2 separate regions of the Homo sapiens genome follow, and region 1 is linked to region 2. A link means that fine-mapping ties the variant in region 2 to the expression of a gene that starts in the linked region. Tissue or cell type: whole blood. Region 2 holds a variant in brackets; the other region holds the start of a gene. All regions are shown on one strand. Distances are from middle to middle.

Region 1 (10,096 bases), 33 kb before region 2:
TTTTAAATTTTTCACGTCTAGAGTGTTAAGAGTTCGTCTTTCTGGAGATTGTTTCATATCACCCGTAGGCCTGTTCATCAGCCTCCCTCTTGGCTCCACGATTTTTCTCAGTCTGCCTTTGCTCACACTAAGCATGTGGCTGGCTGAGGGTAGTATAGGAGTGTGAGTTGTGTAGTGGGATTTGGTGGGAATTTTTTCCCTGTTACTCAGCTCCTTTGCAGTTGGAAAATTCTCCAAGTAATGCTGAGGACAGTTTTATATAGAATTTATTTTTCACTTCTTGTTTTTTGTTTGTTTTGTTTCTTGGGGGAATAGGGGAGATAGGCAACTTCTGTTCTCAGCTACTTGCAAGTGTGTTGGTTTTAACAGTGGGACTTCCTGCAGGACTTGAAAAATTGATAGTTGATGAACCTGAGTTCCCTGAGATACTGCTGTTTTTGTTAGTGTTTATCCAGCAATTGCACGATTTAAACAACTCACAGAACTAAGTTGTTATTGCTTATAAGCATGTTATCTTCAGAACCACTGATTCATTATTGATAATGATTGAAGTTCAGCCTTTAAATTGCAGGCCTGATAGTGAGGACACCAGTGGAGTCTTCCCCTTCATATCAGCAAGTTATTGAAAAACTATCTGTAGAATATTTGATGCTTTTTTCCTTCCAGTACTTAAAAACGTTCCATTGTATTCTGGTGGCATTATATCCCATGAGAACTCTTCTGTCACCCTTACCTGTGTTTTGTACATCAGCAGTCCCTAGCCTTTTTGGCACCAGGGACTGGTTTTGTGGAAGACAATTTTTCCATGGGGTGAGAGGGGGATGGTTTAGGGATGAAACGGTTCCACCTCAGATCATCATTCTCATAAGAAGTGCAACCTAGATCCCTTGCATGAACAGTTCACGGTAGGGTTAGATCAGCTACTGCTGATCTAACAAGATGCGGACCTCAGCTTCACTAGCTCACCCGCTGCTCACCTCCTGCTGTGAGGCCAGGTTCCTAACAGGCCATGATCTGGTACTCCTGTGGGGTTGGGGGACCCCTGCTATACGTAATGTCTTCTCTCTCTGGCTGCTTTTAAGGTTTTCTCTTTATTACTGGCTTTAGGCAATTTGATCGTGATGTGCTTTCACATATTTTTCTAAATGATTTTTGTGCTTGGAGTTTGGGGATGTTCTTGGCTCATGGGTTAATAGAAAATGTTCCACATAGTGGTTTTTCACATATTTCCCACCCATCTTCCTCCAGGGGCTCCAGTTACACCTTAGAGTTGCCACCTGGAGTTGCCTCATGGCTCTCTGATGCTTTGTTCTTTTATTGTTTTTAAGTTACGGGATGTAATAGCTACTTGGAAATCATTTGCTCCTGTTAGTTCTTGCTTTTAAGTTTTGTTAGGCAGCACCAGAATAGCCTTTGTAATTTTTACTGACTACAGAGAGGGACTTGCCCTTCTAATTATGCTCTGATGTTCTGTGTATTTCAAGATTTTTCCACTATGGTTGGTGGGAACTGGAACTATTCCCAGCTGGGTGTGGGCTCTTAGGCTCTTTTCCCTTGGGTAGTGTCCTTAGATGTGTGGGCTGAGACTCAAGTGGGACCCTCTGTGATCTCGCAAGCGCATTCTTTGCGCAGCTCTTTCCTCTCTGGTACTATGCCCTGCCAGCGTTAACTGCCTGGCTTCCCCAGACTCTCTTTGGGTTTCCTTTCTCCATCTGTGGTCTGCAAACTCCAGGCAGTGAGCAGTTGTAGCACTCACCTTATTTGTTTCCCTGCTCTCAGGGGTCCCTGCACTTCTTGTGGTCCACTGTGACAACTGTTGTTTCATACATTTTGTCCAGTTTTTTAGTTTAAGATGGGAAGGTGAGTCCAGTCCCTGTAACTTCATCTCGGCTGGAAGCAGGAATCTTATGTTAATAGTGAATTTTTAGCAGTGTTGACCAGGCTTTGATTGTATCTTTAGCCCTACTGTGTATGCAGTAAAGCACTTGGCCATTTTCTAATCTCTTCTATTGTTTAACCTAATGCCCCTCTAGATTGAGGTACCCTGGGAGAGGAATGATTTTCCATGCTACCTATGACCAATTAGAAATACAGATACATCAGACTACAACTTTTGAAGACGGGAAGCCCATAGTAGTTGCTAAGGAATGTCTTACTTAGACCCAAGGTACAGACAGGAAAATCATTAGGAGAGAACATGCCTCTAGGTGTGTGCCTTACTTCAGCATTCTCCAGAGAACTGTGAATTTCTAAAGCATGTGAACTTGAGAAATAGGCTTTGTCTTCTTAGGAAAATGTATCCTTTAGGGGGTGTTGAGAAAACAGCAGTGACAGGGGCCTCTGGCCTTGCCTCCTTGCAGTCAAGCTTCAAAGAGAAAACGTTGGGAAGAAAGACTCCTGCTGAGCCTGATGAAAGAGGAGTCCCAGTTGCCAACCAAAAACATGCAGCCAAAGTCCACAAGCTACAAGTAGAAAGGGTGGCTCAAGCCAGAGTCCCTGGATATGGAGGGCGAGTGATGGCTGCAGAAAGATGCAGGTTCTTCTCCCCCACTATGACTGGCCATCGCCTAGTGCAGGATGTACGGTGGCCCTGTCCCAGGGCTGTGCTGGCAGCCACCCTTCCCCACTAGCTGTGCTGCTCTCACATGGCACGGCCTCTGGCTGCCAGGCCTGTGCTCGGGCCTGCATTTCCCTTGTGCCCTTCTCTCCACCCAGCCCTCAGGACTGCCTGGGCTGCATTTTGTCCAGAATCCTTTGTCTCCTTACTTGCACTGCAGCTGAGGCGAGTGTCCCTTGTTCCGGGTGGCTCCTGTATTGTGGCGCTCATGTTATTGAGAGTCTTAGAGGTCACCCCCTAGATTCACCAATTGAAGGGCAGGGCTTGTCGATCTAACAGTGTCTTGCACATAGGGACACAAATGTCTGTTAAATGAAGAAAGTAGGGATGCCAGGCCACCCAATGGGGTGTATCTCCTAGGGTTCAAGAACAAGGGCTAATCAAGTCAAGAGAATGTGTGCCCTCCCCCACCATCTCACCCCTCACTCTCAGAACACTTGGGGCCCCTGCACAGGTGGTAGGCATGCTGGCCCTGAGTGCCCTCCCAGCCTGTGTTAGAAGAACCAGTGGATGACCTCGCTGTCAGCTGTCTCCCCTTCTCTGAGCTTACTGCAGGTGGCAGCAGCCTCTCAGCCACAGACTGTTCCCTTTCCTAGGAGAAAACGATGGTCACTCAGCAATGCTGTGCGCTTGCAGCTTCCACCACAAAAGAGACAGCTGTGGCCGCAGCACCAGGGTGGTGATTCTTCCCCCTCCAAGGGCAGTGGTGCATTCCTTAGCACAAGTATAAATTTACTGTTGCTAAGAGTTCTCGGAACAGGATAATACAAGAAGGAACCACTGCAAGTGAAATCCAGCCACCAGTAATGCCGAGAGGCCAGGCCTGTGCCTCCCAAAACCTGCTCCTCCGCAGGCTTCCCCGGCCCATCTCCAGAGCGCCCTCCTCTCACCACTTTACATAAACGAATGTACCCAAGATCCCCCATCAGTTTTCCATGCAGCTGCCAGAGTGCCACCAAAGCAAACCTCATCTCAAGACTCTGTGGCCAGGCCCTCACAACCTCCTGCCAGGCTCTCGCTACCTACCCATCAACAGCAAGACTCCCAGGCCATCTCAATCCCCCCAAAGAGCCCTGTTCCTCCAGCCCCACGGCTTCTGTTCACCTGCCGTGCTGTCCCCGCCTCTGCCCACCCACTCATCCTGCAGATCTGGAGCAGCATTCCAGGGCCTGGTAAGTGTGCGCCATTTTGGGTTACTACGGGTCTCGCCAGGCGCGGTGGCGAGTTTTGCCCCCCACGCTCCCCAGCGCCTGCACCTGGGCGGAGAGGTAGATAAGGCTGGGAGATCTTAGCCTTTTGCAAGGCAAACACCAGGCAGGAACGCCCAGAACCTCGGAGGAGGAGGAGGGGAAGATCCCCAGGTGGAGACCAAGGTGCCCCTCACGCTGAGTCGTCTAGGAGACCCTCCCTAGTTTAAAAAGTGTTTATTTGCTCGGAGAACATTTCAGGAGGCCTTCCTGGGACCCCAAGTGTGCCGCCCCCCGGGAGGGGCCTGGAGACGCCCGCGCGGCCCCCCTGCAAAGTTTTACCGGCCCTGGGCGCCCCCGGCCCTGGCACCCACGCGGGGAGCCGCAGTGGGCCGGGCCGCGCGGCCGCCGCCTCCCACCGCTCCCGCGCCCGCTCCCGCCCCCGGCGCGTCTCCTCCGGGCCCGCGCCGCGGCGGGCTCAGTCCTCAGCGGGGCGCGTGGCGAGCGGACTCGACTCGGCACCGCTGTGCACCATGGCCCGGGCCCTGTGCCGCCTCCCGCGGCGCGGCCTCTGGCTGCTCCTGGGTGAGTAGGTCCAGGGGTCCCGGCCGAGCTCCCTTCCCCTGGCCAGCCGGTGTCCTCTAGGGGAGAGGAGGGGAGCGGGTGGGAGCGGGTGGGAGCGGGTGGGGGCGGGCGCCGCGGGCGCACAGATCCGCTGCCCTTGAACGCGGGCCGCCCCGGTTCCAGGCGGGAGGCCCCAGGGCACAGGGGAGGCGGAGGGCGCGGACCGGTGTTGCGCTTCTCGCCGGGGAAGGGACGGCTTTGGGGACGTCGGAGAGCGGGCATTCTGGAAAGCGTGGGGTGAGTCAGCCCTGCACACTGGAGAACTAGTTTTCAGAAGGAAAAACAGGACGCGGGGTTCCCCAGCCCCGCACCTCGTTTCTCAGGCTGTGCGCCGCGGTGACTGCCAGCGCAGGCTCCCTTCCCTAGGCCGTCCCGCGTTGCAAAACCTGCAGACGGGCACCTTGCAGAAGACGCAGTGTTCGGGAATCAGAACCACAGCCGGTTTGTATGGAAATTAGTCAACACTGACAATCTGTCGCCTGCAGCAGTTGCTTGTTTGCAAATCACGTCTTTTGCAGAAATGAGGCCAGCCCTTTTCGGGACACTTCCATCGCTTTTTTTCTTTTTTCTTTTGGTTTGCTTGTTAACTTGGCACTTTTGGCTAATAGAAATTTAAAGAAGGACGGGTCCCTTGGTGAAGTGGTGGAACACGTTTGGCTTTCCACTTGGAGGGAGAAGTGGAGATTAGCGGCAGCCTCATGGCCACAGGAACTGGCCACACACTCGGCAAGAAACGGTGCTGTTCACTTCCCTTGTCTGTAATGTGTTCCTAAAATGCTAACTCAAGCCCCTTCTAAACCGCTTTGGCTATTGCATTATTCCGTGTATTTAGCTACCTTTTAACGGAAACTGTGAATAGGTTACTGGCGTGGGAGAACCCAGTGTCCCTGGGAAGGCCGGAGCAGTTGTTTCTGGTATGTGTGGCCTTTCCCCGGAAACAGTGATGTTGGTCAGAGGCACCTGCCGCACAAGACCTCTTTGGCGCTGGCACTGGGCAAGCAGGGACCACCGGCGCTGTTGTAGCTGGGGGAGTGGTTCGTGGCCCAGCGAGGAGAGGGGCCAGGGCTTCTTGGGAGCCATGGATTTCTGTTCCCTATTTGTAAACCTCTCCAAGGGGTGGCAGATCTGCATAGAATCCTCAGAGGCCGATATAATATAATCTGAAAGCGGATCTTGCCACTTTAGAGTTTTGGCTGAAGTTACGTGGAAAGCAGAATCTCGCAGTAATTTTATTCTCTCCATTTGGCTTGACATGGCCTTCACTGTTTTCATTTACTAAGAAACAAACATTTCTTTGTTAGCAAGGCAGAGAGCTGGGTTGTGGAATATTTTTTACATAAATAACCAAATAAATAAACGTTCTTTACTAGTGTCCAGAGGCTGAACCCTCTAAAGCTTGTGTAAATAAAACACTATGTCACGATCACATATAAAGACCTTCCTTGTTTACCGAGAAAACTATTCATGTTCTGCCGAAAGTCCAAAGTCCTGTAATTTTAACGTTATTTTGAGTGGCCTGGCTAATGTTATCTCTTGGAAGAACAAACAAAACTTTATGAGGTTATCAGTAAATTAATGTCATTGGAGCCCAGCTGTAATTAGTAGAATTACTGAGCACAGGCTGTTTCCTTCCCAAGCTGTAGCACTAGCCAGGTCTCCTTGGTGATGAAGATTTTGCTACCAAGAATGGCAATGTGGAATTTTTTTAAGTACTCTAGTTTACAGGTTTAAGAACTTATCTGTGACAATTTTACAATCAAGCTATTTGTCTTAGGTAGTTATTAAGAATCTCATAATCCGGCCAGGCATGGTGACTCACGCCTGTAATCCCAGCACTTTGGGAGGCTGAGGTGGGTGAATCGCCTGAGGTGAGGAATTCAAGACCAGCCTGGCCAACATGGTGAAACCCCGTCTCTACTAAAAATACAAAAAAAATTAGGCAGGCATGGTGGCAGGCACCTATAATCCCGGCTACTTGGGAGGCTGAGGCAGGAGAATCGCTTGAACTCAGAAGGCAGAGGTTGCAGTGAGCTGAGATCATGCCACTGCACTCCAGCCTGGGTGATAAGAGTGAAACTCCGTCTCAAAAAAAAAAAAAACTTAGGATCCATATATAGTTCTTTTCCCTCTGAGCATCCTGTGTACTCTTCTGTTTACTGGAGACTCTACATGCATTCTGAAAAGTTTGTGTATAGACACCGAAAAGCTGTTCGTTAACCAGGAAAGAAGGATGCGTTAGAAGCCCCTGGTTTTTCGAGTCCATCTTCACTCAGGGAATGCTGGCTGGTGCTGTCACACATGAACTCAGTCACCTGTCCTAGGAAACGCATGCCTTCCTTGGCTGTCACGTGGGAGCCAGGGGTTTTTTTAATGGCTGCAACATTAATTGAAATGTATGACTTTATATAAATACAAGTAGAATTGGAATGACAGGGACATCACAGGAAATGCTATGTGACTGCTTCAGATTGCCATGCGGTTTTAAATCTGGACACAGTTCTCATGCCAAAGTCCAAATCTGAAGGATTCTTATTTGTTAATCAACTCAGTGTGTTTGTTTACCCTCTCTGTGTGTCTAGCTGCAGGAAGAAATTTCTGGATTTTTGTCTTCCTTCCACAGGCGCATGCCTGTCAGCGTGCTTATTACCAGTCCGAGGCCAGGGCTGTTGAGAAACATTTATATCCACAGTGCAAATGGTAGATTCAGCTCCGGGAAATGTTTTAGGTGGAATCTTTAGTTAAGGCTAGTTGGAAAAGTCTGTCCTGATTTTTTTCCCCAGAATGCGCCCATTTCATAGCTTCTAATCAGTTACAACTGGCGTCTGGCTGACTGTGTGATGCAGGTGCCATGTGTAGTGTGAATTCCAGCGGAAATGCTGAGCCCAGAGAGTGAAGCCCCTCGGGCTTGCCTGCCAGTGCCCCTGCCAGTGCCCCCACCCCCAACTCAGGCCTAGAACCCCTCTTTCCTGACGGTCTTTGTGGTATGGTGGGCTGGCCCTCAGTGGTCTCTGAGCCAGGCCTGGCCATCCAGATGGTCCCAGGGAGGAGACTGGCCGCAGGCTGGACAGTCAGTGTTCTGCTGGAACCACGGGGAAAAGCTGCGTCTTTCCTCCAGGCTGGATCTGAGTGGGGCTGCCACAGTCTACCCTGTGAGCCATGGGGGAGTACCTGTCCATGACATAGAGCACTCCTGAAGCCTTTTGAGCCCCTAGATCGAGCTCATGGGGTACACATTTCCATCATGTGACCCATAACGTTTGAGATGGGTGTCTGTCCCTTGCAGGGACGGCAGGCTCAGGGGGCTCCGAGAATGGCGTACCTGGGGGACTGTGGGAATCCTGCCCAAGAGCCTCCTCCTCCACTGGGGACCCAGGGAGGCCTCCTGAAAGAAGAGGTGCTGCAGCCAGGAAGACAGTGGGAGCTGGGAAGGGGACAGGGGAGCCCGGGCTACAGTGGCCCTGGTGGCTCCAGCACTTGCTGGACCATGTGCCCACTGCCCCAGCCCACCAGTTTCTTGGTGGCAAATGAAGAGGCAGAGACGGTGCTGCCAGGGCACTGTTCAGTTCCCAGCCTGCCATACCCCCTGCCTACCTCTGACACATCCCACAGCAGACATATGAAGCCCTGGAGGGATGTCCTTGTCCCCAGTCCTCTCTGCTCCAGAACAGGAGGACTCTCAGCTGGGTGATGTTCCTGGAGGACCTGTTTCTCCTTAGTGAGGAGGATGCGTCAACACGGCCACCATAGGAGGGCTCCCAGCCCAAACAAAATCGTACTCACTTCACCGAATGATGTTATTCTGTTCAGGAAAAATATTTTTTTCCTAAGATGGTTTATTTCAGTAATTTCTGGGGCATCCGAAAGGCATCACTTTAACCATCTTTTAAATCACGGCTTCTGGGTGGCTTTGTTGGAGCAGGGTCCAGGGGGACACACTAGCCAGATGTGGCAGGAGTGCAGGGCTATGGGCCTGAGTCACAGGCCCCCCGACTCTACGTTCTCAGCTCTCTCGGTGACTCCTCCCCGTGCTCCGAGAGTGCTTCACTCCCTCCCATGTGCAGTCACATGGTGGATTCTCTGGGACCGAGAACCAGAATCCCAAAACCCCAGGCCCCGGCTGTCCACTGTGCCCTCCGCCAGGGTCAGCACCACCTCCACCCCTCACGGGGACAACTGCCCAGCCTCCCAGAACCCCCACCCCACCCACCACCCCAGGGACAGGGGGTCTTCCTCTGTGCCCCCAGCAGACCCTCAGGGTACGTTAGTGTCACCCCCACACATGCCATGTTCAGGCCCCCAGGCCTTGGCTCCGGGGAAGCAGCTCCTGAATTAGCTGAGAGTTCTGGGAAACCACGGGGGCAGGAGGGGAGGCAGAGTGACCTGGCCCGTGGCCTGGGCCAGCTCACTCCAGGGGGTGGGGTACAGCTTGCCCAGGAAGCCCTGCCCCCTGTTCTCCCGGACCACGTATCCCCACACGAGTCTCAGGAAGGACTGTCTTGAGTCTGACACCACCTGGGAGGAGAAAAGTCAGTGATTTGCCCAACCATGCGCGTGTTTGCTTCGTAAGGCCTGCCGCTGTCAGGTACCCTGGCCCCAGGCCGGGAGGGGAAGAAGCCTAGAAAGCATTGCCTCTTCAATGGACACTTGGTGACTGACACCCGGGGTGGCTCTCTCTGCAGGGATTTTCTTGCCTCTGGAGGAGACAGTTGTGAGAGGGAAGCGGGGGAGGTGGATGGATGAGGGAATGCCGGGAAAGCGCTGCACCGTTTCTCCTGGAAACACCCATCTGCCACCTCACACACGGGACACACAGGGTCAGGACTCTCACACACGTGGGACACCCAGGGTCAGGACTCGGAGGGGGCAAAGGACAGGGGTGCAGAGCAGCCTGCTACAGTAGGGTGTCCTACACAACCCAGGGCAGCTCCCCCAGAGGATGATCCCACACCAAATGTCCATAGTGCCAGGGTGGGGCAGCCCTGCTGCATGTCAACCATGTAGACATGTGGTGCTACTTAAATGCAGCAGGAAATAAACAGGAGACCACGGAGCACAGCCCTGAGGAGCAGCGGCAGCACAGTCCAGAGGGCAGAGGGCAAGGACGGTTGTGCAAAGGCCCTGCTTTGGAAGTTCCTGGAAGCCTTTTTGACTGAAGCATGGTGGGGAAGAGGGCTTTGAGCCGAAGCTGGTGCTGGAGGAAAGACCCATTCTCTAAGCATTCAGATCTCATTCCTAGGGCAGTGGGAAAACCTTGAAGGACATTAAAGGGGGTGACAGGACAGAAGGTGTGGTTTAAAGGAGCCCTCAGCTGTGGCCCCCAGCATGGGCAGGAGGCCAGGCAAGGATAGGAGTGGGAGGGTTCCAGGGAGTCCTGGAGGCGAAAGTGATGGACTCCAGTCCCTGGGCCTGGATGCAGGAAGTGAGGCAGCGCTGAGGAATGAAGAACAGCACCTGGCAGAGCTCCTGGGGGAGTAGGGAGGGCAGGGCAGGGGAGAAGAGAGGAGAGGAGGGGAGGGGAGAGCAGGGGAGAGGAGAGGAGGGGAGGGCAGGGGAGAAGAGAGGAGGGGAGGGGAGGGCAGGGGAGTAGAGAGGAGAGTGCAGGGGAGGGGAGATGACACCCCAGGCCACAGCCAGGGCTGCCAGGAAACATGGGAGCCCCAGGCAAACT
Region 2 (10,096 bases):
CTCCGCCTCTCAAAGTGCTGGAATTACAGGCGTGAGCCACCACGCCCGGCCCATTCTGTGGTTCTTGATAGATTTTTGCCAGTTGTTCCTCTAAAGAATTTTACTAATTTATAATTCTATCAGCAACATATGAAAATGCCTAGTTCCTCATAGGCTCGTGAGTATTGAGTTTGTAGGGATTTTATTTTTGCAGGTCAAAGGAGATTTCCTCTGTAGTTTTAGTTTGCATGTCTTTGGCAATTAGGAAAGTTGAACTGGTCTCTGACAGTTATTTGGAATTTGTTTTTTCTCAAGTGCAAGTTACGTCACCATGACCTTTCCTATTTGTCCTGTGAGTCATTGCCCTTTTTTCCTTTTTTTAAGACTTTATTTTTTAGAGCAGTTTTAGGTTCACAGCAAAATTGAGAGGAAGGTACAGAGATTTCCCATATGCCCATTGGAGGTATTTTTAATCTTCTTTTACAAATTCTTTTTTTTGTTTGTTTGTTTTGAGACGGAGTCTCCCTCTCTTGCCCAGGCTGGAGTGCAGCGGCACAATCTTGGCTCACTGCAACCCCTGCCTCCCGGGTTCAAGTGATTCTCCTACCTCAGCCTCCTGAGTAGCTGGAACTACAGGCACCCGCCACCACGCCCAGCTAATTTTTTGTATTTTTAATAGAGACGGGGTTTCACCATGTTGGCCAGGCTGGTCTCGAACTCCTGACCTCAAGTGATCCATCCGCCTCGGCCTCCCAAGATTACAGGCATGAGCCACTTTGCCCGGCCATAGATTCTTGAAGAATATATATATTAACTATTTGCCATTGTGCTCTAAATATTTTCTTGTTTCGTTTGTGTGTCTTTTGATGTTCATTTTCCACACTGTCGTTCATTAGCTAATCTGTGAACACATGGATGCTCCCATTCACCCCTCATCAGTCAGTGACCGTGTGACCTCCGCACAGCTGTAACTGTCCACAGACTCTGTCGTCTCAATTGTGAGAGTCATATGCCCACAAGATTATGTTCTGTGTCTTTGTAGTTGTTCTGTGTTTTGAAATGATATGTATCTTCTTAACACAGTGGATGGACAGAAATGTATTTCCTTCCCACCTCAATTATCCTAACAGAATTTGTTAAATAATGTCGCCAACCTCCATTGTTTTGTGTTGCTTAATTTAACACATAATAGCTTCCTATGTGCATTAGAGTCTATTTGAAATAATTTTTACTTATATTCTGGGGTCGTACCACGCCATTTAAATTACCACAACTTTACAATATTTCCTACAATTTAGAAGGCCTCTCCTACCATGTTTCATTTTCATTATATTTTACATTATGTTTTGCATGCTTTGATATATTTTCTGCCTATTTTTCCAAAAGAACTTAAGAATCATGTTGCTAAATTCCATAAAAAGTCATTGCAGCCCCGACCTCCTGGGCTCAAGCAATCCTCCCACCTCAGCCTCCCAAATAGCTGGAACTACAGGCATGTGCCACCACACCCAGCTAATTTTTATTTTTTTGTAGAGATGAGGTCTCCCTATGTTACCCAGGCAGGTCTTGAATTCTGGGCTAACGCAATCCTCCTGCCTGAGCCTCCCAAAGTGCTGGGATTACAGTTTGATGGGTTGTTACCTGATACTGCTTTTTAGCGAATAGTAGGAAAACTACCATGGACCTTGGGGACCAAGCATGCAGTGCCAAGTGGGGCCCGCCTGCAGAAACCCCGCCGGCTGCGTCCCTCCTTCAGCGCTGTGAGCCTCTGCGGCCTCCCCAGTAAAATGGGTATAGAAAGTGATGAATAAGGAAGCTCCGGATTTTCCTCTTTGTGTTTCCTTAATCAGGTTTTAGGGTTAGGACCACGTTTGCCTAATGGGATAGACATGCTAGCCCACCATTAGAATCAAGGGTGGGAAATAATTTTTTTTTTTTTTTGAGACAGAGTCTCACTGTGTCACCCAGGCTGGAGTCCAGTGGTGTGATCTTGGCTCACTGCAACCTCCACCTCCTGGGTTCAAGTGATCCTCCTGCCTCAGCCTCCTGAGTAGCTGGGACTACAGGCACTCACCACCACGCCTGGCTAATTTTTGTATTTTTGGTAGAAATGGGGTTTCACTGTGTTTCCCAGGCTGGTCTCAAACTCCTGGGCTCAAGTGATCCACCCGCCTCGGCCTCCCAAAGTGCTGGGATTACAGGCATGAGCCACTGCACCGAGCCAGAAATAATTTGTGATGTGAGAATTACTTATTTCTTAGAAGTTTGAATGAATTCATCACTAACACCATCAAACCTCAGTAATTTGGGGGATTTCCTTCTCCAGTTACTTCCTCCACTATTGATTTATTTTGACTTTCTAGCTCTTGTTTTAACGGTTATCTTCATCTGTGTTTATTTGGTCTATGTCCTTCAGATTTCTCAGTTAACTGAAACATGCTGCATAGTATTCCTTTACGTGTTTAATATCCCTTAGACTCAAGCTTATGCCTCCACTTTTGTTTTTGCTGTGTTTCTTCTTTCCCCTTTTTTTCTTTGTTTAGATGCTATTTCATTCATCAAAAGGAACTGAGAGGCCACTGTTTAATGAACCGCACATGCCCAGTTTTGTAGTCTTTAGAAAATAGGCCACACTTTGCATCACCGTGTCTTTTCTCAGTTTTTTTGCTTTAACTTTTACCACTCACTTCCCCCCTTTTCCCTTTCTTAAAATTGTTTCTTTCCTAAGATATGATTTCAATCCTTAGTTCATCATTTTTCTCACTTTTCTTGAAAATAATAAAGACATTTAAGGCTGTGATGTGTTTCTCTAAGGACTTTCCTCATTCATCACTTTCTATAGGTTTTGATATGTCAGTTTTTTTCATTGTATTCTCTTTTTTTTTTTTTGAGACGGAGTCTCACTCTGTCACCCAGAGTGAGGGTGCAGTGGCATGGTCTCGGCTCACTGCAAGCTCCGCCTCCCGGGTTCACGCCATTCTTCTGCCTCAGACTCCTGAGTAGCTGGGACTACAGGCGCCCGCCACCACGCCCGGCTGATTTTTTGTATTTTTAGTAGAGACAGGGTTTCACCGTGTTAGCCAGGATGGTCTCGATCTCCTGACCTCGTGATCCGCCTGCCTCGGCCTCCCAAAGTGCTGGGATTACAGGCGTGAGCCACCGCGCCCAGCCCATTGTATTTTCTTAACAGACAGATATTGTCTTCTTGACTTTCTTCTCAAGACAATTTTTTCCTTAGGTAAGTATATTTTAAAATATACTATTTCTATTTCTGTTTGTTCTTAATCTCTTTTTTTGCCGTAGGGAGGAAATGTAGCCTGAATCATTTCTGCTTTTGTATTTTTATGGAGATTTGATTTGAGACTAGTATATGATGACTTTTTGTGAACATACAATGAATACTTGAAAAAGAAGAAATTATCTGTTTGTTCTATTTAATCCCCACCAAAACAACCATTAATGTTACCTTGTTTTGATCTTCAGCTCCTTTATGTGTTGCTGAATTTCTTATGTAGTTGATAATGAAGTATTTTAATTTTATAATCATATTTTTATCATTTCTACTTCTTTTTTCTCAGAGATATTTGCATATATGTTTTGCTCTGTCTTTATGGCATTTAGATTCCATGTAATTATGCTGCCACCACCCATGCCTCTCATCCTGATACCTCTCCTTATCACATGTAATCATTTTTGCTCTAAATTATTTTTTGCTATATATTAACATTGGAATCCCAGCCTTTCAACTACTTGAAGTTTACTGGTAACTCTTTTTAGTCTTCCTATTTTGTTTTAATGACCTCTCTTGCCCACAGCTTATTGCTGGATTTCATTTTTTCTTCTGGAGAGTGGCAAGCCTTTTAACACAGGAAATTAAGTTGTATTTTTTCAATCTTCAGGCACTCCAATTTTTGTCTTAATTGTTTATCTTTCCATGCTGATTACTTTTCTTTTCCCTCAATTGTTGAAACACCATGTGTTTTTTCTTTCTTTCTTTCTTTTTTTTTTTTTTTTTTTTGAGACAAGCTGGAGTGCAGTGGTGTGATCATGGCTCACTGCAGCCTCAACCTCCTGGGCCCAAGAGATCCTCCCACCTCAGCCTCCCAAGTAGCTGGAACTACAGGCATGCACCACATCATCTGCCTAATTGTTTCTATTTTTTGTAGAGATGGGGTCTCACTGTGTTGCCCAGGCTGGTCTTGAACTCCTGGGCTCAAGCAATCCTCCCATGTTGGCCTCTCAAAGTGTTGGGATTGCAGGTGTGAGCCACCGTGCCCAGCCTGTGTTTTCTCTTCTATTATTACTGAAATATTGGCAAGCTGTTTTTCATTCAACCAGCCATGAAATGTGAAGCAAACAGATGTTCTTATCTTGTACTTATTATCTTACATTGTCCAACCACACACTTTGGCCTCCCCTGTGTGAGATGACAGGAATCTGGGTTTTGGGCTTCCTCTTCTCTCTCTCTCTCTCTCTCTCTTCTCCATCCTTCTCTCCCTCCCCCACTTCTTCCTTCTCCTCAATGATTGCAATTAATGTTCTAAAACCTACTTTTTCCTTTCTGTCTTCTATGTAATTTGGTTTTTAATTTTTACGCTGTTTTTCTGACAGTTGCACTATTTGCATACTTTTATCAGTAATAACCCTTGCTCTGATAGGGCTCTTGTTTACTTATCTTTGCAAATAGGTTGTTAATTCAAGCGTGTCTTATTTCTAGCATCATTCCCTTTTACATGTTACCTTTTAAATTCAGGAGATTATTTCAAGTAGGTCCTAGAAATAAGCCATGTGATTAATACATTCTCAGAATTCAACAATTTCTAAGGAGCTCTCTGCCGTCTTTGCAACGTGAGTGACAGCTTGGCAAGATAATAAATCTCCAAGGAGCAACCTTGTTCTGTGAAGTTCCTGTAGCTGTTGTTCCATTGTCTCTGGGTGTTTGGGATGTCATCAGAGAAGGCAGAAGGGATTGTGATTTATGTATATTTTTAAAATCTGACCTCCTCCTTCCTGGCGTGGTTGCTTGCAGTATTCTTTTTGGTTTAAACATTTTGTGAGAACTTGTTTTGCTGATGGCCTCGTTAAGCCTGCAGAAGCTTTGGTGTGCAGTGCAGTTTCCTCCTCGGACTCCTTTCTCCAGGACCGGACACTGACATTCCCCGATAGCTGAGGTTTCCGGACATGGTTCCTCCGGCACCCTCCTCTGTCCCCTCTGTGCTCCAGTGGAATTATTTTTGCCTTCTTTCACTTCTTTGTCATATCTTGCACTGTTTCCACCTGTACATGTTACATCCTTTTTCCAGATACATTTTTCCAGATAATCTGTTTTTACTTCCTGTAATACAAATTCTGCTTTTTACTCTTTCTAAAGTAGTTTCGGCCGGGTATGGTGGCTCACACCTGTAATCCCAGCACTTTGGGAGGCCAAGGCAGGTGGATCACTTGAGGTCAGGAGTTCGAGACCAGTGTGAGCAACATGGCGAAACCCTGTCTCTACTAAAAATACAAAAATCAGTTGGGCGTGGTGGCACGCACCTGCAGTCCCAGCTACTCGGAGGCTGAGGAAAGAGAATTGCTCTCGAACCCAGGAGGTGGAGGTTGCAGTGAGCCAAGATTGTGCCACTGCACTCCAGCCTGGGCAACAAGCACAAAACTTTGTCTCAAAAAAATAAGTAAAAATAAAAATACTTT[C/CTT]TTTTTTTTTTTTTTTTTTTGAGACAGTCTCACTCTGTCACCCAGGCTGGAGTGCAGTGGCGTGATCTCAGCTCACTGCAACCTCCGCCTCCCAAGTTCACGTGATTCTTGTGCCTCAGCCTCCCTAGAAGCTGGGACTACAGGTGCATGCCATGATGCCCAGCTAATTTTGTGTATTTTTAGTAGAGACAGGATTTCGCCATGTTGCCCAGGCTGGTCTTGAACTCCTGACCTCAAGTGATCAGCCCACCTTGGCCCTCCAAAGTCTTGGGATTACAGGCGTGAGCCACTTCACCCGGCCTAAAGTAGTTTTTAATTAGGATATTGTAATTGAAACTAATTATACTGCAGTGAATTAAAGTTTCCTTTATCCCCAAGCCTAATGGACACATTAACTCACCTCTTTACAGGGAGGCCAGATTTCTGCCATTGTGGGAAGGAGGCAGGAGGAGCCGGGGGCAGTGCTGGGGTGGGAGCTAGGCCAGGGCGAGGCTGGCTGTGGAAGGGCCCTTTGGGCAGCCGCAGGCCATACGTCCTCAGACCTGGGGCAGCCAGGACCACCAGGGAATGTTGCTGACAGGCAGCACCAGCGCCTGAATCCCCCGCCCCAGATGGACCTGGCTAGGGGGTGAGACCCCCCTGCCACCCCTCCATCCCAGAAGCCAGGCGGGGCTGAGGCTCTATGGGTCCCCACCACACTTATTTATTGGCACCTTCATCCTCCTGGTGCACTGTGGCAGTTCCAAGGCCCAGGCTGTCCAGGTGGCTTTTGAACTGTGGAGAGGCCCCTGGACGGCTGGAACCTTCTCCCTTGCTCGGGTGAATGTGGCTCCCCGTGGTGCACAAACACGTTCAAAGACGGAACAAAGGGACACGTGTTCATAGGAGGTGAGACAAAGCGTTGCCAGCCCTGGGGAACAGGAGTGGCCTGTTCCTACTCCTATCTGGTTGTGGTTCTCCTTCGACAAGTTAGGTGAAGGCACCTTGGTAGCAGGGTACCCTTCAGAATCCAGATACCTGATTCAGCTCAGCAGCCATTTGCTGAGCACTTAGCAGGCACCTAGCCAATGGTGCCAGCCACCAAGGGCCCAGCAGGGCAGGACCTCCCCCTCCCTCCTGGAGCCACGGCCCCCCAGCACCATGGCCTCTGGAGCCCCTCACCCTCCCTTGAGGTCAGCCCTATGGTGGCGATTGTAGAGCGAGTCAGGAGCGAGACAGGAGGCCACGTGTTGCCTGCCTGTGTGGGGCTCCCATCCAAAGGCAGGGCAGCGCGAGTCACATGCCCACCCCCTGCTGTGCAAAGGGGTCCTGTGGGGGGGTCATGGGCTCCCATCAGAGAATGGCATGGTGGTGGCCCTCTGAGGGAGTTCTCACCACGCTGCTGCTGTGAGCCAGGGATCACTGAACCCATTTTAAAGGTGAAAACACCGAGGCTCCGTAACTGCCAACTCCTCAAAACCCCCACAGTGAACACCCCACGTTGGGATGTTTCCTGGCCTGGCCTTTCCCCACACTCAGTGTTGCCCTGAGCTCCAAACGAGGTGAGATTGTGGCAGGAGGGCAGGGGTGGCAAGGCTGCTACCCCGATGGAGGCGGCCAGTTGGTGGGATGCCCGAACAGGGACCAGCATGGTGCAGGGCGCCCCGTGGGTGGGCAGGATGGGTCGCTGAAGGCTCGTGAAGCCCGGCAGGGGTCCCTGAAGAGTCTAGTGGCATCGGGGGAGAGTTTCTTGTACAGAGAGGGTGAGTATGCTTTGGGCCGGCTGGCTGGGGCTGAGACCAGGGGTGGATAGGAAGGCAGAGCCCGTCCAGCCTCCAGGCCAGCGTTGCTTCACAAGGACAATGCCCCCAGGGTGTTAGCATCCAAATATAGCTTGCCGGCTGTCATGCTTAATCCTGAGACTCGGACACATGTCACACCCATGTCCCCGTGAGGTGGGAACCCTGGGGCCTGGACAGGCCTGAGTGTGGTCTCAGCCCCATCACACACAGCTGGGCAGCTAGACCTGGGTGTCCCCACAGGGGTGCCAGGACACCTCCCAGGGGTTGTAGTGAGCCCTCAGCACCCGGCCCACAATGGGCACAGCTCAGCGATCTCCCAGCATTCCCTGATCCTCGGACCCTGGGACGCAATGCAACCCCTGCTCAGGCCCAGATGCAGCCAGCATAGGACAGTCTGTGACTTTGCCTGGGACACCCACTGCATTTTAAAACTGCACTTCATTTGGCAGCCCCAGGAGCCAGGGCGCTGCCCAGGCCTGTTCTCAGAGGAGGTATTATGCCCGTCCGCCCGCCTGCTGTGGCTGCTCTGTGGGGAGCCTGACTTGGCAGCTCCCAGGCTGTGTCTGGTGCCAGACCTGGCTGCACATGGAGCCAGGGATGGATTTAGAAACCTCTCGCTTCTCCCAGCATGGGCAGAGGCGCCCAGATTCCTCCCCGGCCTGGGGCCACCATAGCAGGAGAAGGGGAGGGAGGCAGAGGAAGCCAGGCCCAGGGAGGGCCAAGCAGCCCCCAGGCAGACCCCTGGACCGTTCCCCAGTCTGCACTGCCGCCTCAGGGACCTCCCCATCACCTCAGCAAGCGCCCTTTTCTGTAAGGAGGGGGTAAGAACACCTGCCCTCGGGTGATGTGAGAAGCACACTCACGCGGGGAAACAGGTCTTAGTATTTTCTTAGACTTTGTTTTGTTTTGTTTTAAGGCAGGGTCTCACTCTGCCGCCTAGATTGGAATGCAGTTGCATGATCTTAGCTCACTGCAGACTTGACTTCCTGGACTCAAGCAACCCTCTTGACTCAGCCTCCCAAGTAGCCAGGACTATAGGCACACACCACCACTCCTGGCTAACTTTTAAACTTTGTGTAGAGATGGGGGAGTCTCTCTGTGTTGCCCAGACTGGTCTGGAACTCCTGGGCTCAAGCGATCCTCCTGTTTTGGCCTCTCAAAGTGCTGGGGTTGCAGGCGTGAGCCACTGCACCCAGCCTCTTAGACTTTTGGACAGCAGAGGGGCCAGGCCTTTAAATGTCCTGGGGGTGTGATGTGCTGTCCGTGGGGATGGTGGGGTCACCTGCCCCAGCCTCAGTGGGTCCCTCTTTTACATGCCTGCAGCTCACCGGATGCTCCCGTGTGGCACTCAGCTATCATGAGGTGTGCATCCGTCCAGGTGGACCCCAGAGCCCCGCATGCAACCACGGGCCCCGCCTGGGCCTCAGCCTCCATCCCAGGAATGGGAGAACCAGCTTCACTTCAGGCCAGGAAAGAGGGAGACTGAAAGAGCAGATGACATGGGACAGGACAGAGCCTGAGGCCCAGACAGGCCATGAGCGAGGGGAGGTGAGAATAAGGCCACAGGTGGTCCCGTGTCTGCCTTCCCTGCTCAACGTGCAGAGAGGGCTGGCCATTTTCTCCGGCTTCATCAGCATGCTCTACAGTCACTGCGAGTGTTGCAGGAGGAATTGTGGCCTCCTCCACAGCAGCGAGAACACTGAGCCCCGTTTCATCTGTCTTCCTCCTGTTTCCTTGAACCCTCCCAAGATTCTTTCTTTGGTGCGTTATTCATGTTGTTCCTTTTCCTGCAAGAGAGAGGCCTTTGTCCTCCTTGTTCAGCAAGCACCTAGTCAGTGGTAAAGTGCAATATTTAGCTGGTAACAAAGGTGTGGAATGGAATTGGCTTCCATGATTTGGCGAAGTATTTGCAAGAAGCCTATGGTGAGGCTTCTTGTTTACAGATCCACGTGTCTTAGTGGAAACCTCAGAAACACATGCTCTCGTGGATGCTGTCATTCTTCTTTTTTTGTTTGTTTTGGTTTTTTGGGGGGGGGTTTTGTTTTTTGTTTGTTTGTTTGTTTTTTGAGATGGGGTCTCGCTCTTTCTCCCAGGCTGGAGTGCAGTGGTGCAACCTCAGCTCACTGCAACCTCCACCTCCCGAGTTCAAGCCATTCTCCTGCCTCAGCCTCCTGAGTAGATGGGACCACAGGCGTGCACCACCACGCCCAGCTAATTTTTGTATTTTTAGTAGAGACTGGGTTTCACCATGTTGGCCAGGCTGGTCTCAAACTCCTGACCTCAGGTGATCCACCCTCCTCAGCCTCCCACAGTGCTGGGATTGCAGGCGGGAACCACTGTGCCTGGCCAGATGCTGTAATTCTTTGGAAAGGGATGGAGTTGGCATTTCCCCTTATGCTGTTGGGAAAATGGCTTTGCTAAGATGTCAGAAGTCCCTGTTAATACAACTTAAATAGATAAACCATAGTCAGAGCCTGGGGAAAATTCCTGTTTAACATATTCATTTGCATGCAGTGATGACACTTATTTCAAAGCATTCCTGTCTCAGCAATGCAGTAGGTCAAATGTGTAGGCATCCCTGGGCTGGCACAGGTACATAGGACTTCTAATGCTTGGCCTTTTCCCTAGTTTGATTGTACTCTCTG

What was found. PIP is the estimated chance that this variant, and not a neighbour inherited with it, causes the effect.
Region 1: it holds the start of RAMP1, and the variant in region 2 is fine-mapped to the expression of RAMP1 in whole blood (INTERVAL, PIP above 0.99).

Annotation. Positions count from the first base shown.
Region 1 is chr2:237,855,339-237,865,434 of GRCh38, forward strand. RAMP1 (receptor activity modifying protein 1) reads left to right here and starts at 4,285. Exons shown (of 3, transcript NM_005855.4): 1 at 4,285-4,389. The coding sequence starts at 4,338. RefSeq lists enhancers at 2,097-2,885, 2,886-3,672.
Region 2 is chr2:237,888,300-237,898,395 of GRCh38, forward strand. All of the region lies in intron 2 of RAMP1 (receptor activity modifying protein 1), which reads left to right. Among named protein-coding and RNA genes, the nearest start is that of RAMP1, 34 kb to the left of the region's middle. RefSeq lists a silencer at 845-1,045 and enhancers at 6,427-10,096, 6,694-7,572. The variant C/CTT (reference allele first, on the strand shown) is at 5,671.